Linked DNA regions of Homo sapiens: region 2 is linked to region 1. Evidence: fine-mapped expression QTL. A gene starts in region 1. The other region holds a variant in brackets. All regions are shown on one strand. Distances are between the middles of the regions.

The links. PIP is the estimated chance that this variant, and not a neighbour inherited with it, causes the effect. A credible set is the group of variants that fine-mapping cannot tell apart.
Region 2: its variant is the best candidate, but not a certain one, in a credible set for the expression of FOXI1 in whole blood (TOPMed, PIP 0.58).

The regions. Positions count from the first base shown.
Region 1 is chr5:170,102,684-170,108,057 of GRCh38, reverse strand. It overlaps FOXI1 (forkhead box I1), which reads right to left and starts at 2,161. Exons shown (of 2, transcript NM_012188.5): 1 at 1,527-2,161; 2 at 1-9. The coding sequence starts at 2,100.
Region 2 is chr5:170,176,376-170,181,749 of GRCh38, reverse strand. No RefSeq gene overlaps it. Among named protein-coding and RNA genes, the nearest start is that of LINC01187, 20 kb to the left of the region's middle. The variant G/A (reference allele first, on the strand shown) is at 2,774.

The DNA of each region.
Region 1 (5,374 bases):
TCCCTTTGCCTGATACAAAAGTGAAAGGGGGTAAATAGAGAGGTGGACAAAATGCTTTGCTTCTGTTCCTCCTTATTGTCATAAACTAAAAGCCAAGGTGACAGATGCAGGAAGACAGAGACCGACAGGCAGGGACTGAGAAATGGAGGAATTCCATCAACTGATGAACCACACCACCTCCATCTTTAATTAAGCAGCCCATGACAGGGCCCTTTGGGACTGCAGCCGAGAGGCATGAGCATTAAGGAGTTTGCAATGTAGGTCTCTTTAAGAAGGATGAAGAACTGGGAGCAGGGATGCTGAGGGATTTGGGGGTTGGGGGTTGGAGGGCTTTCAATGCTGAAGGAAAAGAAGACTCAGGAAAACTCTGGGACTCCCTAATAGCCGTAGGCTTGGAGTCTGAAGACAGACTTGAGTCCTGGCTTTGCTCCTCACTGACTGAGGGGCTTTGGAAGAACCTGTTTTCTAGTCTGAAAAGTGGGCCCATTGCCCCTGTCTTCCTCAGGCCCACTGAGAAAGGATCCACACCGGATATGGAAAGGAGCGTTGCAGCTGGGAGGTACCTTCCCGAGGGAAGGCCTGAACTCTTCCTGCTACCGTCTCTCAGCCTGAGGGTGATGGCAGTCCTTGGACAGGACACTTGCCCTCTTCTGGGGACAAACAGGCCTGGTGTTTGCCACCCTCAAATGGGGCAGAGTTGGGGTTCCTTTGAGCTATACCTTGGCTTCCTGCGGTGGAACAAAAGTGGACTTTAATTCTGGGAAATGGATGCATGAGTATTTAATACATGCCTCTCTGCAGGTCTCTGAGTTTTAGAAATGCATCGTTGAAAAGGAAAAGCTCACAATTTCTGATGTTAGAGAAAACTGAGTTCAAATTCAAGCTCCATCACTATCACTTCATTCTGTGTCACCTCTGAGTGTTATTTTCCTAATCTGTAGAATGGGTTTCATAAGAGCTACCCTGCAGGGGTGTCTTCGGGTTAAAGGAGGTTACCTAAGTAGAAACAAGGCAGGCAGCAAAATGGGCCATTAGTGGCTGTTTAACCCAGGTCAGATCCTCTTCCTGGCAGTCTTGGGATGCCCTTGGGCTTTGGTTGGTCCAGTCATTCATTCACCAAAGACTTTCTATGTGCTGGGTGCTGGAGATGCAGATGAATCGTAATTACTGCAGGCGATTAAGCGCTTGATAACACCTAAAACCTTGTGTACATTATCTCATCACCTCCACTGCAGCCTGCAAAGCAGATGCTGTCACTATCCCTGGTTTTCCGATGAGGGAACTGAGGCTCTGAGGTCTAACCTGCCAGAGGTCACTGACTGGGCAGGAGCACAGCCAGGGCTGAAACCCAAATCTTCCCCCAGGCCCATGCTCTCCTTCACTGCTGAGCTCCCCTCTGTCCTGCCTGGTAGCATCCCCCAGTCTTGGGGGGCACAGCCCTAGTCAGAACTTTCTAGAATGGGGTCTTGGGGAGGAAGGAAGTGAGTCTTCCTTGGGGACACCCCCCACACTCAAAGCCTCCTTACCCGGGTCGTCCTCGTCGCGGGGCACCTTCTTGAAGCAGTCGTTGAGCGACAGGTTGTGGCGGATGGAGTTCTGCCAGCCGGCCTTGCTCTTGTTGTAGAAGGGGAAGTTGTCGGCCACGTACTGGTAGATCTGGCTGAGAGTGAGGCGCTTGTCGGGTGCCCCGTGGATGGCCATGGCGATGAGAGCCGAGTAGGAATAGGGTGGCCGCACCAGCTTCATCAGCTCCTCCTGCGAGGGGATGGGCAGCCAGCCCAGGTCGCTCCCCCCAAGCCCCGACACGCTGGGCAGCAGCGGCCTCTGCACTCCATAGGCCTGGGGCAGGAAGGGGCTGGCGTTGGGGCCGGGCAGGTAGGGTGGCGGGGTCATGGTGGGCCCGTTGAACCAGAGGTAGGGGTTGGGGGTGGCCCCATACTCGCCGCCCCCCTCGAAGGAGGGCCGCTGAGGGCTGGGCACGCCCTGTGGGTGGAAGAAGTTCTCATAGTAGAGGTTCATCTCGGGGGGCTCCTGGCCGATGCTGGGGAACTGGGGGCTGCAGCGAGGTGGGGAGGGCGCCGGCAGGTCGAAGGAGCTCATGCTGGGGCTGGGCTGGCCGGAGCCACCTGCCTGGCACCTGCACCCCGGAGCTGCCCCTGACAGGTGCTCAGCAGGCCCGGCCTCCCACTTATACCCCTAGGGCTTGGCCGGGCGGCCCCACCCAGGGGCGGCCACCTGCCTGTGGATCCCAGCCCAGGGCCCGCCCTCCCTCAGCCTCCAGCCCACGGGGAGGGGACTTTCCCGCTGGCGCCTCAGGTCCCCACTAATGACATGCTAGACGGCTTACCAGAGCTGACACGCAGCGCAGCGAGAACGCCCCTCTATCCTCTCTCCCGGCTTTCTCTCCTGTCTTTTCTCACCATCCTCATGATTCCCTTCTTCTTTTTCTCCTTTATTCTGTCTTACTTCTCTCATTTTTTTTTCTGTCCTTCCCTTTCGTCACATTTTTCTACCCACCTCGGTTTCCTTCTCTCTCTCCCTCCTCTCCTCTCTGCATCTCATTCTCTGTTTCTTTCCTTCTTATTTTCTTTCCTCCCTTCTGCTCTGAACTGTGTTTCTTTTCTATGAACTGATCTGGCCACATCACAGCTGCTCATTCCCGTTCTCTCTCTCTCTCTCTCTCTCTCCCCCTCCCTCTCTCCCTCTCTCCCTCTGTCTCTAGGCTTCCAGTTCTTCTTTCCACTTCCATCTCTCGCTTCCATTCTCATTGTCTTCCCGGCTTCTCCCCTTTCTCCTTCTCTTTCACTCTGTCCCTTTCTCTCCACCTCTCATTTTCTCTGCGCCTCTCTTCCCATCCCCTCATTCTCCCTCCTCTTCCCCCCAATGTCCCCTCATTCTCTAACCAACTGCCCCAGCCGGGACTGGGTGGGACACTTTATCAGAAACCCTGTTTCTTGGTCTTTTGAGGTGAGGAGGCACTTTCTGGAGTTGCCAGGAGAGAACCGGCCCTGGAGACTCAGAAGAGGGCGCAGAGGGGCCTGGGCTGGCTTCTGGTGGGGTTCAAGGGGGCAACCAGTCATAGGCACCGCAGCCTCCCCCAACACACACATACACGCACACACGCGTACGCGCACACGCACACACGCGCACACGCACACGCGCACGCCCACACACGCGCACACGCCCACGCACGCACGCGCACACACGCACGCACACACACACGCATATGCATACATGCTGCAGACGGGCAGAGAACCTGAGAATTTGCCTGGAGAGCAGCAAGGCTCTTAAAAATAATAGCAAAAGGGGAAAATGGGGAATCAGTCTTCAGGGAAAAGTGAGAGAACTTGAACAATTCAAGTTTCTTTCCAGCTGCAGGGCAAGCAGGCTCCCAGCTCCTCTCTGATCCAAAGACCTTTCATGTTTCAGCTCGCAGAGGCCCCTGGCATGGAGGCAGCCAGGGCACGAGGAGAGCGCCCGACTCACCATGCCCCAGGCGTCCTCTCTCTCTCTCCCTCAGGCTCCAGAAGCAGGAGCTGCAGCCCCTGCTGGCTTCTCCCTGTGGCTCAGCCAGCTCCTCTCCTATCTGGGCTCCATCCTCCATCTTGTCCCAGCCTCCCCTGGTGCCCCAGGTCAGGCCCTCAGCTTGGGCCATGGGTGGTGGTCTCCCTACTCAGAGGGTAGGCGCTGGCCCCTGACCAGGTTCTGGTAGCAGCTGAGACTTCTCTCTGTGATGAAGCAGATGGGAGAAAAGTTGGGGTCAGCCCCTCTGGTCACCACCTCGCTCCCGCTTGCCTCCTTCTTCTTCCCATCCAGCTTCCTCCCACTTCCTGCATGCCCTACTTTCTTTGAGGCAAGAGAAAGAGGTCACTGACTGTCCCAACTGGAGAGGATGCTCCCCAAAGAATTCTTCCCCTCTCTGCTCCTCTTTCATGGTTATGTGGGGACACATGTGGCAAACATGAATGAGACTGAATAAACTTCATTTTCAGCATATTGGTGCCCAGAGGATGAGTTCCAGGTAACTGGGTAGGAGTGGTCATGTTAGGCCCAGAGGAACCTGTCCCCACCATAAAACAGTGATGAAATGTGACTCTCTGAAAGGCTCTGGCTGTCCAGATGAGGCTTAGAGTAAGGCACACTTTGCAGAGCCAAGCCAGAGGCAGAATTTTTGTTTGGTACAGTTTCTCTATGAGGAGGCCTGGCTTGCTGAAGGTGGAGCCCTGACTTTTCAAAGAGCAGTCACATTGGAGTCCCCTAGTACAGACTCAAAGCCTTACAATTAACCTAGCAATTTCACTTCTCAAAGCTTATCTTACAAAATTCAACAGAGCAAAGAATTAGCCACAGGGATGCCCACCACAGCATTGTTTATAGCGGTGAAAAATTGTAACTAATCTAAATGCCCAACAGTAGGGGATTGGCTAAATAGTGTATCATCCAAATGATGTAATATTATGCAACTATGAAAAATAGATTCTGGAAAAATAACTAATGATATGAAAAGATGTTTATGTTCTCATGATATTATTTGGAGAAACAGGTTGCAAAATGCCATGAGATTTTTTTTTAGTACAAATATGTATTTATAATTGTATATGAAATCTAGAAACATAAATATCAAACTGCCAATTATTATTTCTGGATGAAGAATTGGATGCAATTTTTGTTGTTGTTTTTCCGTAGTTTCTGATTTAAATGATTAGAGAAAGGCAAGCACACAGGTGACTTGCTTTTGGGGTTAAATTTGAAAGGCTAAAAACAGATAATATAGCAGAGACGTAGCAAACACAGGCTCTGAGATCAGGAGGACCTGGCTGCAAATCCCAACCTTGGTATTGCAAATCCCAACCTTGGGATCACTGCAGGCCCTGACAAGTGATCTAGCTTTTCTCAGCCTCAGTGTTTTCTGGTGAAAAAGGGAACGATGCCAGTACTTAACTCACGAAGTTGCAGTGAGCATTCAGTGAGGTAGTCAGTGTAATCAATGTCAATCATTTCACATGGCACATACAGGCTCACTCAATAAATATTAGTTATTATAGATTATAGTCAGTATACATTTGCTGTGTACAATCAAGCACACCTATGTTTGCTACACTGAGAGTTAATCGCATGCAGCATGCAGCAGGGATGTGACAGGGATTATGATGCAAAAACAGAGGGAGAAATATTCAGCGTAGACACCGATTCTATAACCAGACTCTACATTTACAGATGACAATCAGAGAGGGCCCAGAGTCACACAAGTTCATGGCTGGGTCAGGACCCACTCTGCCCCACTTTGGCGTCTCCTGCTTTAGCGGCATTTTCTGAGGAATGCTGAACTGGGTCTCCCTAGCTGCATGTGGACCCTAGTTCCTTTCCCCCAGTA
Region 2 (5,374 bases), 74 kb before region 1:
CTTGAAATGGCACTTTTGGGACTCTAACCAGAAAAAAATGAAAGCTTGTAAGAATGCATGTACATCGATGATGATAATTGCTGCATTGATTGTATTTGTCAAGAGGGAACTGGAAAATCTCCCCAAGACTAATATGCCTCAATAAGGGAGAGACTGAATAAGCTGAATACACTATGGCACTCTACTGTATTGGACTAAGCAGTTATGAAAAATAATGAGGTTTTTAAAATTGATCTGGAGAGATGGGCATGATGCATTCAGTGAAAAAGTATACAAATAAATATATATTTAGTGTGATTTTTTTGGAAAAAGCAAACCACCTTTTGTCCCCTTCTCTCCTATGTGTGGACATACATGTTTCCATGACCCTAAAGAGAAGTACGGAGTGATTCACACCAAGTGTCAACCTTGCATCTCTGAGTGGGCACAAAAGGAAGAGATGAATGGGAGAAAGGAGGTTTAAGAGTCTATTGAGACCGGGCGCGGTGGCTCACACCTGTAATCCTAGCACTTTGGGAGGCTGAGGCGGGCAGATCACGAGGTCAGGAGATCAAGACCATCCTGGCTAACACAGTGAAACCCCGTATCTACTAAAAACACAAAAAATTAGCCGGGCGTGGTGGCGGGCGCCTGTAGTCCCAGCTACTTGGGAGGCTGAAGTAGGAGAATGGCATGAACCCGGGAGGCGGAGCTTGCGGTGAGCCAAGATTGTGCCACCGCACTCCAGGCTGGGCAACAGAGCGAGACTCTGTCTCAAAAAGAAAAAAAAAAGGGTCTATTGAATGTATTTTTTGTCTCTGAATTGTTCACTTTTTTCTAAACACATACATCATTTTTTTTTGTAATGAAATGAAGTTGTTAGAAGGCCACTTCACAAACAAGTCCTCAGTGAATGAAATGAGTAAATGAATGAAATCTGATAATCCTACCATTTGCAATTCACTCTTTTGAGACAGGAGGTGTTTTCCTGTTCCAGATTCTCTACCAATATGCAAATACCCCTGAGTGGAGCTGATAAAGCCGAAATTGTCACTGATCACTAATCTGGGGCTTGTCAGCCTCAGGCCGAGATCAAAATAAGAGTGTGTGAGTGTGTGTGTGTGTGTGTGTGTGTGTGTGTGTGTGTATTTGCGGGGAGGAGGAGAGAAAAGTATCAAGGTAGACATCTCTGTGTGCCTGGCAACATGCTGGGTGTCTTCACACACACCTGTGCACTGAATACAAAAACAGTCCTGCAGGGATCCGATTCACTTCTTTTTATGAACAAGGGCACTAGAGATTAAAGGGTTTATGAACATCTTGCCTAAGGTTCCATAGCCAAAAGCTGAGCTGGATGCGAATATAGGAATCTTGGAGCATCAAGACAGAGTAGAAAGGTTTCAAAGTCCCCTGATATGAGCAGACTTCTGTTTAGTAAAACACTCATGATCATCATAAACGTAGTGATGACAGCTCATATCCATTGAGTCTTAGCTTTGTTCCTTGCTGACCCTCTGCTGAGTACTTCAAATGATTTATTTTAATTAATCCTTACAAGGACCCAAGGATGGGAACCATTATTATTCCCATTTTATAAATGAGGAAATTGAGGCACAAGAAGGTAAGTAATTTGAGGAAAGAAACAAACTCAGAAAGTGAAGAGAAGGATTTTGAACGCACACAGTCTTAACTGTACCACCTGCCCTTTCAACCCCCAGGAGGACAGAGCTGTTCATTACAACAGCCCTGACCCTGGAACTGAGGCCTTGGAACTCTGGTCCAGGGCTCTTTGCACTACACCAGACTGATGTCAGTCCCCAGGTCTTGCTGAGAAACAACAGATCCATGAAGAGGGAGGCTGAGAGACTCACTCTGTGTCCTCGAGTTTGCCCTGACCGACTTTATGGAGATTCCAGGAGTGACTCTGGTCTTGTCTGGGTCATCACAGGGCATTTTGGTTTCACATTCTCCTGGGCTTACTGCTGCTCATTCCTCGTAAATCCAGCCACTGTGCAGTTCAGGCCTGACGCCGCGTGCCTCCAGGGTGGCTGGACAACCTCTTTCAGGGCTTTGTTAAGAAGGCCATCCTCAATACAAAAAATTAGCTGGTCATGGTGGCAGGCGCCTGTGGTCCCAGCTACTCAGGAGGCTGAGGCAGAAGAATGGCGTGAACCCGGGTGGCGGAGCTGGCAGTGAGATGAGATCACGCCACTGCACTCTAGCCTGGGCGACAGAGTGAGACTCGGTCCAAAAAAAAAAAAAAAAAAAAAAAGAAGGCCGTCTCATCTATCTAAGACAGCGTGTGCCAGAATCCAGCCATCTCCTTCCCAACAGAATGATTGTTGTCATTTCTGTCTATCACCTGAAACATTATTTATTTACTATTTTAATTTAAACCGAAAAAACCCTCAAACTTTATTTCTAAGAGGAAATCTCTATCACTGGTTATAAATGGACAACCAGCATGGCCATAAATAGAAGGCTACTGTAAAATGAAGATGATAAAAACAGAACAAAGCCACTCAATTATAGCTAGGCATTGCGGCTTGCAGAAGTGCTATGACTTAGCAGGCCTGCCCTCTGCTTGTTAAAATGAGAGAGCAAGAGTTGCAGAGGCATTGAGACATCCTAGCAGCTCTCAAGACTTTTCAGCTTGATACTACCTGAAGGCCTGAGAAAGAACTAGAGACACCTCCCTCTGCCTGGGGCTGGTGGTTCTGACCTAGCCGCAATGGGAAGCACCGCCTTGGGACTTCTTACTTCCTGATCCTCGGGTGTTATCTACGCAGCTCTC[G/A]CAACCTCTTGAAGGCCTTCTATGGTCATTGGCTTCTTGGGAAATGCTCTTGGCCAGAGGGCTTGTCTTGCCCAGTGATGGCCGGCTCAGCCGCCCTGTGTCTCAGACCGGCCCAGGCCCTCAGCCAGCTCCTGGGGCAACTTTGAGAGCTTTCCAAAGGAAGGGTCCATAAGGGCCACTCACGGTGGCTCATGCCTGTAATCCCAGCACTTTGGGGGGCTGAGGTGGGCGGATCACCTGAGGCCAGGAGTTCGAGACCAGCCTGGCCAACATGGTAAAACCCCATCTCTACTAAAAATACCAAAAAAAAAAAAAACAAAAAAAAAAAAACATCAGCCAGGTGTGGTGGTGGAAGCCTCTATAATCCCAGCTACTTTGGAGGCTGAGGCGGGAGCATCGCTTGAACCTGGGAGGTGGAGGCTGCAGTGAGTCAAGATTGTGCCATTGCACTCCAGCCTTGGCAACAAGAGCAGAACTGCAAAAAAAAAAGATGTGGGGGGTCTATAAGGAGGTGGCATTACCACTAATAATAGTATTGCACCTAAGAAGGGAGTGGAATTAGAGACAAACTCTTTATCTTTTCTGTCACTTGATTTTTTTATAATGACAAAATATTTATATATTGCTTAATAATAAAGACTTTTCTAAGAAAGACAGCCCGACACTCTTTCTTGTCTTGCAAGGGTTAAGGTGTCCTCTCTGGGCATTTGGGAGACAGTTCAGGTGAGCAGGCAGGAGCAGTGGCTGCTCTCCATGATGTGGCACAGTGGGTCTCATGACAGCAGTGCCATCCTCACGGGGCAGGAAACAGGTGTGGGTTCCAGTTTTTTCAGTGCTAAGGAGACAGTGTGACTTATCCTGGAATTTGAATCCAGGCTGGGAACTTGCCAATGGGTGACCTTTGGCAAATTGCTCGACCCCTCTGAGTTTTCGTGGGGATTATACAACCTACCTTGAGGAGTTGCTGTGTACATACATGATGCCCTAACCCACAATGCGTGTTTTGGTGTCTTGGCAGTCAGTACTGTGCCAGGTTGGGCAAATCACTTTTCCTTCCTGGTCCTCAGTCTTCTCATTAACGAGCTGAGGATGTGATTAGATCTGTGGTCCACAACTAGGGCCACTGGTCAAACCCAATTGCCAGACTTGTTTTTTATAGGCCACGGGGTGTTTTCTGGTTAGCTGCCAACATTTACAAATCAGGAGATTGTACATAGGAATCTAGGTTTTGTGTGTCTCCAGAGAAATCTACAAATCTGGCAGTGTTAGGCCCACATTATGACATTCACTGGGAACTGGCTAAGACAAGACTCACCTACTTGAGCTGTTTAGCTATTTAAGTTATTGGGTGTTCAATATTCACAGCAGCTGCAATTAGGAATGAGTTTAGATAGCTGGCCCCAGGTCATACAAATGTGAACAGGAGAGCCGGGACTTGAACCCACGCATTCTGGCTTTGTGTGTATTTATCTCCCCATGCTGCCTCCTGGTCAGGAAGCCAAGAACTGTACCAGGCACTGCAGAGACAGAGGTGGAGGCAGCCTGAGGCTCTCGGGGCTTTCTGCAGTCCTTTCTGTGCTGGGGAGGTGAGGGTTAACCTTACCCTGCTATCTCACTCAGGCCAGAGGCTGCCAGGATGAACTGTGCAAGAACTTGCTGGAGGTGGATGAAGCAAAGCCTCCTTTTCTACTGACAACTGGTGTTCACCCTGATAGCAACCGCTGGCCCTCAGCGGCCCCCCAGGGTGTGCGGGAACCCTGCACTGGCTCTGTTTTGCTTTGGCAGTGGAGCACACCTGCCTCCCATTGCTCCAGCCCTCCTGTTTACCCTGCAAACAGCCAAGTGCTCCACACCATCATTTAGAGGCCAGGGGGCGGCTGCCATGGGGCACCAGGCAGTCCAGTCCTGTTTGAGCTGTCCTGGGACCTGAGGGCTGCACGCGCCCAGAGCCCATTTGCCTAGGATTTAATGGGCCCCCACACCCCTGCTAGCTGCCGGCAGGAGGGAGGTAAAAGGGGAGGGTGCTGCTGGGCTCTGGGTGACTTGGCTCCTACTGAGCCCCATGACCTTGAGCCTCTGGGTCTCAATGCCTCAGTTTCCCCAATATAATCTGCCCTTCCAGGGCTCCAGAGAGCAGCAAGCTCCTGGACTCGGAAGATTCTGGTGCAGCATCTCTCGGGAGCATGGCCGTAGGACCCTGACAATTAATAACATTCATTGTTGTTAGCAGAGCTCAACAAGAGGCATCGGACTAAGGCTTTCAAAACTTGTCATTGAAGTATAACATACTTTCAGAAAAGTGTGCATATCATAATTGTGCAGCTCAATGAATGTTCACACCCCAAGCACGCCTGTGAAATTAGCACCCAGATCAAAAAGCAGAATACCGCCAGCACTCCAGAAAAAGCCCTCATACTCACCCTCCAGCCACAGCCACCATTTGACTGGCATCGTCTCTTTAGTGCTCACCACAATTCCGTGAGGTTGATACCAAATCATTCCCATTTTATAAGCGAAGGAAGAGGGCCGCAGAGTGGTCGACCACACCTGCTAGTGATTAGGCCAAGATTTGAACCCAGGCCCTTTATCTCCAGAGTCCAC